Linked DNA regions of Homo sapiens: region 1 is linked to region 2. A link means that fine-mapping ties the variant in region 2 to the expression of a gene that starts in the linked region. Tissue or cell type: whole blood. Region 2 holds a variant in brackets; the other region holds the start of a gene. All regions are shown on one strand. Distances are from middle to middle. Region 1 holds the start of AQP9 (aquaporin 9). Region 2 overlaps AQP9 (aquaporin 9).

What was found.
Region 1: AQP9 starts here. The variant in region 2 is fine-mapped to the expression of AQP9 in whole blood (TOPMed, PIP above 0.99).

Annotation. Positions count from the first base shown.
Region 1 is chr15:58,135,590-58,140,970 of GRCh38, reverse strand. AQP9 (aquaporin 9) reads right to left here and starts at 2,590. Exons shown (of 6, transcript NM_020980.5): 1 at 2,295-2,590. The coding sequence starts at 2,405.
Region 2 is chr15:58,172,447-58,177,827 of GRCh38, reverse strand. It overlaps AQP9 (aquaporin 9), which reads right to left. Exons shown (of 6, transcript NM_020980.5): 3 at 4,623-4,760; 4 at 2,792-2,910. Among named protein-coding and RNA genes, the nearest start is that of AQP9, 37 kb to the right of the region's middle. The variant G/C (reference allele first, on the strand shown) is at 2,285.

The DNA.
Region 1 (5,381 bases), 37 kb after region 2:
CAGTAGGCCTTATCAGTCCTTTATACCAACTGTTCCCAACCTTTTAGCACCAGGGACCACCTGTACCAGTCCGTGGCCCATGTGTTGGGGACCCGTAATTTATACCATGGTGTTAGATTAGTTTGAGATGCTCCCCATAAGAGCAGTTTTTGAAAGGAGGGAAAAAAAATAGAACCAGACTCCCAAGGTTGGCGGAAAAAAAACAATCTCACATATTTGAAAGACTGAGTCCTTTATATCCTCTGCCATCTTTTCGATGTTCCCCTTCCCTTTGCCTTATCAATGTACAAAGCTTTTTACTAGAAAATACAAGGCAAAATGCACATTCTCTAATAAAGCAGAAAATTACTTTGGATAAACTTTCAGCAAAACCATGTAGATTTCTTGGTTTAAAAAAATTGTGTTTGTGCAGGAACTTTTTGTTTATACATCCCCACAAGCTCCAACAAAACTGAAGATGATAATCAAGGTTGCAGATTTTATTAGGGTTCACTTTAGAAAATAAATGTATAGTATAAATGGAAATTAAATATTTCAGGAAATGACTGGCTTTATCCAGAACATACAAGTTTTAATTTTTCAACAGACAATATCAAGATGTTCTTTATTTAGCCCCTACCTTGCATAGTGGGGAAGACACAAGGCCAGTTGAACAGTGAACTGCTGAAAGCAAATTTCACTTTCAACACAGAAAGCACGGGATTATGAAACAGGTTCTTCTTAAGAAATACAGAGGGTTTTAAACTTTTTGGTTGCAAAAAAAAAAAAAAAAAGATGTGTAGTTCATTTCCTCCTCTGTTTTCTGCAGAGCACTAAGAATTGTAACTGAATTTGCTTCACTTTTCTGACTCACTCGTCACTGTGAGGCTGTAATCACTCTGTATTGACAACTGCTTCTTTGGGGCCAGATTGTCAAGTAACATGACAGAGGGGTCTCAGTCTCACTAAGAAAGATTTTCCAGTAAGCAGTGACCGGGAATCATAAGAATCACTGACTTTCATCTTCTCTCTTTTATTTCTTTTATTTTAGTTAGAAATAACTACTTACATAATGTCTTACTACATAATGTCTTGCTACATTATGACAGTGAGTGTGGTCAGAGCAGCCAGGAATGAATGCCAAGGGAAGATGAGGAGTGCAAGAAATTGTCCGTAACTCCCTGAAAATACTGTAACGAATCTGGTCTAATGTGTTTCTCAGAGACCAGAAAACTTATGACTCTCTCTTCACATTCCACTAGTTCAATTTTTTGAGTTCACATTTGTTTCTCATTCTTGGCTTAGCTGATGCATTCCAAGCTTATTCTTCTAAATTATTATGTATTTGCCCCAAGCAAAGAACTTTTAATGCACAGAGTTTATGGGCTATTCTCTATAACTTTAAGGAAAATGAAATTATTTATACCTGGAGTAGGAAATCCTTAAGCAGGATAAAAAAAACCAGTTGAAATCAATAGTTGCCACATGATAATACATTTCTATTCACAAATGGCCTGGTTCCAGGTAAAACTTCAGGATACAGAGAATGCTAGAACGTGCAGCAAAATGAAAGCCCAGACCACTTAAGTAAACTTTCCAGTCTCTTGTTAATAGCTGAGTAAATCTCTGGGCAATCCTCAAGAGGTTCTTAGAAGTCGTCCCTCGTTTATATCTAGAAGGTTCTTGTAATTGTCTTGTAAATCTCCAAAGATATTTAGAGATTACTTTGCTTTAAATAGAGACCAAAAATGACACAAAACTAAAGCTGGACTATTGCCTGGTACACTATTTCTACCTAGTGCAATTTTTAATTTCTTAAAAATCAAGTGATCTGACAGCACAATACTTGTCAAGTACTTGTCATACTGAGATGTTTCTTGCCATCCATATGTATATTTTTGCCAACTATATTTATTGACTATTGATGCTTATTCCAGGTGGCTGAGTCACCCCAATGCTTGGAGGAAGCAAGCAGGGTACAAATCAATTGATCAATGAAAACACTAACGACTGACTTTTAAATCACAAAGCCATTTTAGAGTATAAGTAAATACCTGAAATAAAGAAGGCACTTCACTCACTCCTTCTCTTCCATTCCCATCAACTTTTGTGGGTAAATGCAATAGGTAATTGAAAACTTAATATCACAACCCCTAAATAGTCAAACAGCCTCTAGTAACTTGTTTCTTCCTGGAAAAGATGAATCTGATCCCAATTAACTTAAATAAAACAAACCAAACAAAACTCTCCACTACCAGCCTGGCAGCTAGGGAGGCATTATTGGGTCTGAATGTAGGAAATCAGGAAATACTTACAATCAAGATGAACGTGCCCAAGAACTCAGAGAGGGTTTCTTTCGCTAAGCTGCTCTTCAAGACCAGTCTCTGCTTGAAGCTTTTTCCCTTTTCTGCTCCCTCAGGCTGCATCTTGGGGCTTCTCTGAGGACTCCTGTTTCTACCAATACCTACCTGTTGTGGTCCTCACTTTCACAGCCAGATGAAAATGGACGTTTTGACAATGGCTCACAGATTCCTGGAGATGTCTGGTAAGAGTCTCTGACTGTACAAATGCCGTTCCAATTAGAGGCTGTGGCTTAATCGTCTTCTGGTGGAACTGTCATTCCCTGTTCGCTGCTATTTGTTTGAATCTGCGACTTAGAACCCGAAATCCCCAAAACAATCCCTTTTGTGCCTGACAGATTAATCATTACCTTTATTCTCAAGGTACTTTTTTCTCTGTTGGTTTTTTTCAAGAGATGAGAAAAGAGATGTGCCAGTTGTGTTGCCAAATCACAGTGACGGGCCCTGGTCCAGAAAAGATTTTCATGTTACACAATTGCAGGCTTCTGATTTTTTTTTCTTCTCATTCAGAAGTGGGTGGTTGGGGTGTAGTTTGGAACTGTCAAATCAGGTGTAGATATATCCAATGTTAACATTCTTTTCTGAAAAAGGTTTTTATGCAAAATGAAGAATTTGAAGAAAATATAGATTTATCATCCTAGAAGATTAATCACTCTTGTTTTCTTCTGGTATCATTTCAGTGGCTTCATGATACCACTCTGAGGTTAGTAAGAACCACATAGGCCATCCTAGAGATGGAGAAATTAACATACAGAGAAACCATTGCAAGCTTCACACTGCAAGTCTGTAGGACAGATGGAGTCACCTCTTCGGTTATGAAACTGGGCTTCACTTGCTGAAGATACTTTAGGATCCAAGAATCAGAAAGATGGAGGAGTCACCTTTTTGGTGACTTCTGAAGTTTCTTCTGAAGAAACATTCCAGTTTGGGTTTCTTCTGAAGAAGCATTCCAGTTTGAAAATAGTCACTCTTCTTCATTCACCATGAAATATTTAGACATAATACATAGGAAATAAACAATAGCAGCTTGAAATTCTTTACTGCATGGAGATGACTGAGCCGGAAAGAGATCAATTAGCGTGTATGTCATTCTAATCAAACGAGAAAGGGAGCCAGTACACCTAACCGAGGCTCCTAGGTTATACCCTTTCAATTTGATAAATTGACATCCTTGCTGGCAAGAAACTGTGTTTGGGAGTAGCTCCTTGTCCTGCCAAATATTCAAGCCTTGTTTTTCAAAACTGGCTTATCTGAAGAAATAGAATATAGCATTAGTTTCTAAATAGCAAGGCAGGCCTAGTTTCTGATTACCAATGTGGACTCATGGAATTAGTATCCATGCTGTGTGGTTCCTTCCAGTCCTCCCACAGGGAAGCCAGCTCTGCATCAGGCCCTCCCCTAGCTTTGCAAAAAGGGAGGGAGGAGAGGACATGGAGAAAGCAGCTGGTGAGAGGCCAAAGGCAGAAGGAGACTTCTCATCTGTAGGTGACATTTAGAATTTAGACTTTAAAAAGTTATAACCTGCCTGAGGCCACACTACTGCAGAACCAGGACAAAACCTCAGCACTTTGGCTTTAATTCCTGATGAAGTTATCATAAATACCATTGTCTAGAAGAGTTACCTATGACCACACCATTACCAAGTCCCAGTGGATGGACCAGAGAAACAGGACTTTCTTACTGTGACTACAGCTAATAACATGCAAGAGCGTTCTCTGGTCTTCCCATTCACTCATCTAACAACTATTTACTGCACACTCATTATGTGCCAAGCACTGCACTTAACAAGAGCACATAGGGTTCTTGTCCTTCACAGAGCCTAGAGTCTAGTGAAGCAGACAGATGTAAGTGAAATAATCCCACACACATAAATACAAAATCACAACTGAGATGTATGCTGCAAAGATGGGGGCCATATTTCCATAAGCAAATATAGCAAAAGGATTTGACTTTGTTGGAGAGATCTCTGATGGCTTCTCCAAGGAAGTCATGTGTGGACTGAGATCAGAAAGAAGCATGGGATTAACTACATGAAGTGGGGAAGAAAGTGCATGTACAAAGTCCTTGGTGGCTTTGGGGGTAAGGGGTAGGGGACAGCATGATGCCTCTCAAAGAATGAGAGAAATTTACTGTGGTTGGCCCCAGAGAGAGTGAAGGAGTACAGCATGCAAAATGAGCCCTGAGGTGTGGGCAAGGGTCAGACCTTACTAGGCCTTGTAAGTGGTAGTTAGGGCTAAAAGTGTAAGTCATTAAGGTGGTTTAAGCAGAAATACGACATGATCAGATTAGAGTTTTGAAAAGATCCTCCGAGCTGTGAGGTGGAGAGGGGATTGGAGGGGGCTTGGAATGGTCATAGGCAGATACATTTGGGGGTATTACAGAATTCCAGAATTGGGTGGTAGTTTGACAGTGGAGAAATGGAGGGATCCAAGAGTTCTTTATATCTTAAAATTGGAAGAATTTCATGGATTAGATGTGGGAGATGAGGAAAAGAGACTGAGAAAAGTTGGTTCCTGAGTTCCTAACTTGCTGGGGAAGGTGCTGCTGAGCCCTGGGAGAGGAAATCCTGGAAGAGGACCAGAAGTGCAGTGGAAGATCATTAATTCTGCTTGTGCAAAACTGAGCCTCAGAGGCTTCTGAGCGATGTAAGTTAGGAAGTGATATGGGTCCAGATGAGGAAGGAATGTCTGTGTGCTCATAGTGGTGATAACTGGAGCCTGGAGTAAAGAGGCTCCCTAGGGAGAGAGTTTGAAGAGAACTGAGAGTTTGATATGGAACATTTCATGCTTAGGTAGAGGAGGATGGAATCTTTATTATTTCTGTTTTACTACCTTCAATTGACAGTCACACTTCTCACCTCCATCACCACGAACAGCTCATCATCAAACATAGCTTACTCATACAAAATATTCACTGAACAAAATGTTCCAGCCACCTAACAAAATGTTCAAAAGCATCTTAAGAAGGTAAGCAATGAATAGTATTCCTCCTTTATTCCATCTGGGAGGGAGCCTTTGTCAAAATACCCTGACTCCAAAGTTC
Region 2 (5,381 bases):
GGTTTCTATGTTATTAGTTTTCCAAACTACTGTTTTACTTTAACAGTTAAATGATAGCTATTATTTATTGAACATTTATTATGTGCCAGGTACTTCATATGCTTTATCTCATTAAAACTTCACAGTAATGCTGTGAGGTAAATCCTGCTATTATTCTCAGTTTATAGATAAGAAAACTCGAGTAAAACAAGGTTAAGACACTTGTCCAATGTCAAACTTGTAAGCAGAAGAATCAGGATGGGAACCAGGCAACTGATTTTAAAGTTTAAGTTCATTATCATTTCATCTGCTTTCCAAAATAATAATGTTAAAATAATTTTTAATTAATATTAAAAGACACATGTTCCCCCAAGAGCACTCTTCTCTGGAATGCCTTCTCCAACTCTCTCTTGCAGAGTAAAAGCTCCCTCCTCTGGGCTTCCATGACATTCTGACTTTACTTGTATCAGTGTCCCTGTCACTCTGCAAAAGAGTATCTACTTACTTGTTAGATTGAGCCTCAGACTCTGAACTCCTTGAAGAAGGAAGAGTATAGAGCTGTACTTGGCTAAGTAGGTGCCCAGTAAATAGTTATTGGGTAAATAAATGATTGATTATTAACTAAACCAAGGAATATGCTTGAAGAGTATTTACAGCTAAACAATTTAGTAATCTTGAAATAAGGTGACCCCAAAATATGGTCATGATGGCCAAGAGCTCTGTTGGGTGTTGACTGACTGATAATTGGCAATTTTTGGAACTCTCTCCAAAGCCTAAGAATACGGACAGCATTCAGGGTTTGCTGACGGTTACAGCCTCAGGGTTTTCTAATATTCGCTTTTTCTACTTGACTTTATACACAATAATGGGCTTAGAAACCACAGACCTTAGAGAAATTGCCAACTCACTCTGAGACAAGGACACAATGAAGGAAGCTCAGGATATGGTATGCAGGTCAGCATTGATCAAGATACAGCTTTGGGAGGCTTAGGCAGGCGGATTATGAGGTCAGGAGTTCGAGACCAGTCTGGCCAACATGGTGAAACCCCGTCTCTACTAAAAATACAAAAATTAGCCAGGAGTGGTGGCTCACACTGGGAATCCTAGCTACTCCAAAGGCTGAGGCAGGAGAATTGCTTGAACCTGGGAGGTGGAGGTTGCAGTGAGCTGAGATCACGCCACTGCACTCCAGCCTGGGGCAACAGGCTCAGTCTTAAAAAAAAAAAAAAAAAGCTTAGAGAAAAACACCAAAATAACCAAAATTGTCCTCGCTCTTCTATGCTCTCTGCTTCAAATTTCTATTATAATATGGTCGCTATACTCCAGTTTCCTATCTAATTTTCTTCTTTTTTGCCCAGGCTGAGGTGTGGTGGTGTAATCATAGCTCACTGCAGCCTCCAACTCCTGGGTGCAAGCTATCCTCCCACCTCAGCCTCCCAAGTTGCTGGGACTACATGCAAGCACCACCACGCATGGCTAATTTTTGTATTTTTGGTAGAGGCAGGGTTTTGCCATGTTGCCCAGGCTGGTAGTGAACTCCTGGGCTCAAGTGACCTGTCCACCTTGGCCTCCCAAAATGCAGGGAGTAAGATGTGAACCACCGTGCCCAGCTCTGTCTAATTATATCTTATTTTGCATTGTTTCCTTGTTCAATGCTCTTCAACTAGATTCAAAATTTCTGGGCAGATACTGCTTACAATGCGTTTTTCTCATATTATTCTTTTTATCCTCATAAGTAACTTCATGAAGGCTCATATTATCCCCATTTTACAAGTGAATAACTTGCGACCCAAAAAGTTCAGTACTTTGCTGAAGCCACGCAGGAAGTTGGAGGCAGAACAGCTATTTTAATTCAAGCATTCAGACTCTGCATCTTGGATCTTTACAACTCACATTTACTCGTCAGTCTTTCAAGCTCCAGACAAAGGGCCAAGCACATAGTGAGTTTTTAATGAACACTTGTTGCCTGTTTGATTTATTGATGAAAGTGGAAAGTAAAAAAGCTGAGGACATGAGGGCATAGTTTTTCATCCATACATTGAATGGAGGTGGGCATAGCTGATGAACTGGAAGATCCATTTTATACACATGCCCATTCTGATCTGCTCCACTGTATAAGTCCTGATCATAGAGGAAGAACTTAGAGATACTGAAAAATATAGCCTTCCTTCCACTGCCCTGACCAAGATAACCAGCAGCCTTCTTGGGACACAGTAAGGGAAGAAGAGTCTTTTGAGTTGACAATGTTAGTCCTGCCATAAGCTGACCAAATAGGTGTGCTATTGGTTACACCACAGTATGCTTG[G/C]GTGCTAGAAGCTTGTTTAAAGGTCAATAAGCAGAGATACTTCTAGCCACCTTGAGAGTTTAAATAAATAAACCTATGCACATGGTGAGACAGAGAGGATTGATGATCCCCTAGGCTCAACTACCACCCTTCACAGTCTTTGATTTGAAATAGAAATATCTTCTCTTGTGGCCTCCACACTTAGACCACTTGTTCAAAAGAGTCAATAGTGAAGTGAAGTCCATTTGTGTCTACAGGGATTGAAATGTTTAGTCATTCACTCTTTTCTGGATCTCAACTAATGTTAAACAAGTGTACGTATTAAAGAGGAAGGAGAAAACTTTTCTGGTGGTATCAGCTCCTTGTAAAGGTAAAACGATTATCAAGAAAGCTTGGGTTATGCCCAGCAACCTCTGCCTTTGGAAATATAATCTCTCCTTTCTGATTGGTCTCTAATTCTCCAATGCATTCCCCTTATGAGAGCATATCTTTTCACCAAAGTTAAGTCTTTGTTGAATCTACACTTACTTGATCTGCAAATGCGTTCGCCAGAGATAGATACGGAGCTGGGTATGTTGCAAAAATGTGTGCTGTTGCATTTTCTCCCACGATCAGCAGTTTTCCACCAGCAAAGGACATAAGTCCATCTATGAAAGAGAAAGCTCTGGCACATTAGTGTTCCCTGGGAAGAGTTGAAGGAGGCCTGTGCCAAGCCTTGTGCTAAACAACCAGTCACTCAGATTGAGCTTGGCATAGCCATGTCATTTGTCTCTCTCTACTTCCGAGGAATGATAGTTTTAGAGATGCCCAGGTGAATCCCAGGATGGAGGGTCAAAGGAAGAAGGCCTTTGGCCTCTCTGAATGGCCCACTGCAAACTTGGACAAATTATTCTTCGATAGGGTCCTGGGAATGAGTTCTCTTTTGGGGGAATTCTTGGAGTTTTCGAGGTCAACTGTAAGCCAAAGTGGGGCTTGGTCTTGCTCTAGGAATAATTTATAATTCCCAGAGGGCTCTCAGTAACCCCTAATACCACTCCAGAATTTGAGGGTGTTGCAGTATACTGAAGATGCCCTTAGAGCCAGGGGTATTGCAGCCACTGCCACAGCTAGCACTGACCCCAGGCCATTCTTGCCACAGCAGCGGGCTCTGAATTTCCTGTGTGTTCTTGAATTCCATTTTAGCCCTTTTAGACTCTAATTCTCAGAGAGACACTCTATGGGGAAAAGTCCCTTTCCATAACCTATTTCTTTTCCTTTTTTTTTTTCTTTTTTTTCTTCTTTGGAGACAGGGTCTTGCTCTGCTGCCCAGGCTGGAGTGCAATGGCATGATCCTGGCTCACTGCAGCCTTGATCTGGGCTGAAGCAATCCTCTTATCAGCCTCCTGAGTAGCTGGGACTACAGATGTGAGTTACCACACCTGGCTTATTTTTAATTTTTTTTTCTGAAGAGACGAGGTATCCCTATGTTGCCCAGGCTGGTCTTGAACTACTGGGCTCAAACGATCCTCCCACTTATGCCTCCCAAAGTGTTGGGATTACAGGCATGAGCCACCACACACCCAGCCCTCCATGACCCATTTCTATAAGGCCTGGTTCATAAATTCTACTTCCTAAGGTCTTCAGTTTGGGTAAGTCATAATGTATTAAGGCTTACCTTGGGTTAGAAGGAAGGAGCTGCTTTAACAGTTGATTTCATGGGAACACCAAGGTGTTTTAGTTTGAAAGGCCTCGAGAGTCATCTGATTCAATTCCCTCATTTTCCAGAGGAGGAAACTGAGGCTAGTCAGATCAGATGACTTATTTAAGTTGCACAGGTATTTACTGAACAGCTAGAGCTAAAGTCTGGTCTTCTATGACCAATACTGTGTTTTTCCCAAGGACTGTTGCAGAGTGGAAGCCCTGGCTGTTTGATAGAAGGGCAATGAGGCTCCCACCCAGCCCACATCTCTGCTGTGTCTCTTCCTTCAAAGACATCTTCCCAGAGTCCTTCTCTCAATACTTACTGGTCACACCTTTGTCACCAGAAAACACCTCTTTTCCCAGCCAAATCAGAGACAGCAGTGGGGAAGCCACTGGCCTACTGCTTGTTGTATGGATGTGTATGTTGCAGTGCTGGCTTGGCACAAAGACAGGCTTCCTTTAAGTTCTGCTCCCCATTTAAGATATGACCATTTTCATTAACAGGATTCACGAATTTGCTGGAATGGTAATATGGCCTCATTTTCTCAAATTTAGAACTTGCTGTCACTTGTAGAATGCTTCCCGTCCTTGCTTTTTCTCGCCTGTGCCTACCAAGTAATTCTGACTTTCAAATTATGCCCAGCTCTTCCTAACCTTAGGACTCAGGGACTTTACTCACCATAGTAAATGCCAAAGACGGTTGCAGCCCCCACAAAGGCTCCCAAGAACTGGGCTCCCACATAAAATGGCAATTTGAACCATTTCATCCGTCCAAAGAGACACATTGCTAAAGACACAGCTGGGTTGATGTGACCACCTGCAAGGGAAGATTGGAGAAGTGAGAGGGCAGGTTAGGAAGAAGAATATACAGAAAACCATCTAGAGACCTCAGGTGGAATTCAGTCTTCTAGGCAGAGAACTACTGCCTATGAGGAGAAAGAGGGGTGTGTATGCACGTGAAAGAGAGAGTGTGTATCTGAGCAGGGAGAGAAGGAGGAATGATCATTTTCATGGCATCCTTGGATAACAGTTTAGAATGTTTATCTTGATGAAAAGAGAGTCAGGTATAAAAAGAAACTTGATGTGCTCAAGTGGCTGTTTTTTTAATAGGCTTGAATCCCTCTATCTATAAAGCAGTCACCCCAAACAGACTGATGTAGCTATTAACTTCGATATCTTTTAAAAGTCAATATGCTTATCCAATATATGTATAAGATTTAAATCTATATCTAGCAGTTCCTCCGGCCATGCCCAGAGGATATAAAAACAAGCTCAAAAGAGATGTATCTTTAAAGGAAAATGACTGTGGGTTGCTGAGGGTGGGGGCATAGTTGATTTTGAGGTGGTCACAGTGTGAGTGGCTTGTTCTCAGTTCCTCTGCATAAACAATGCATTTCTCTCCTATACAGAAATGTAGCAACCCTTTCCTGAGCCCAGC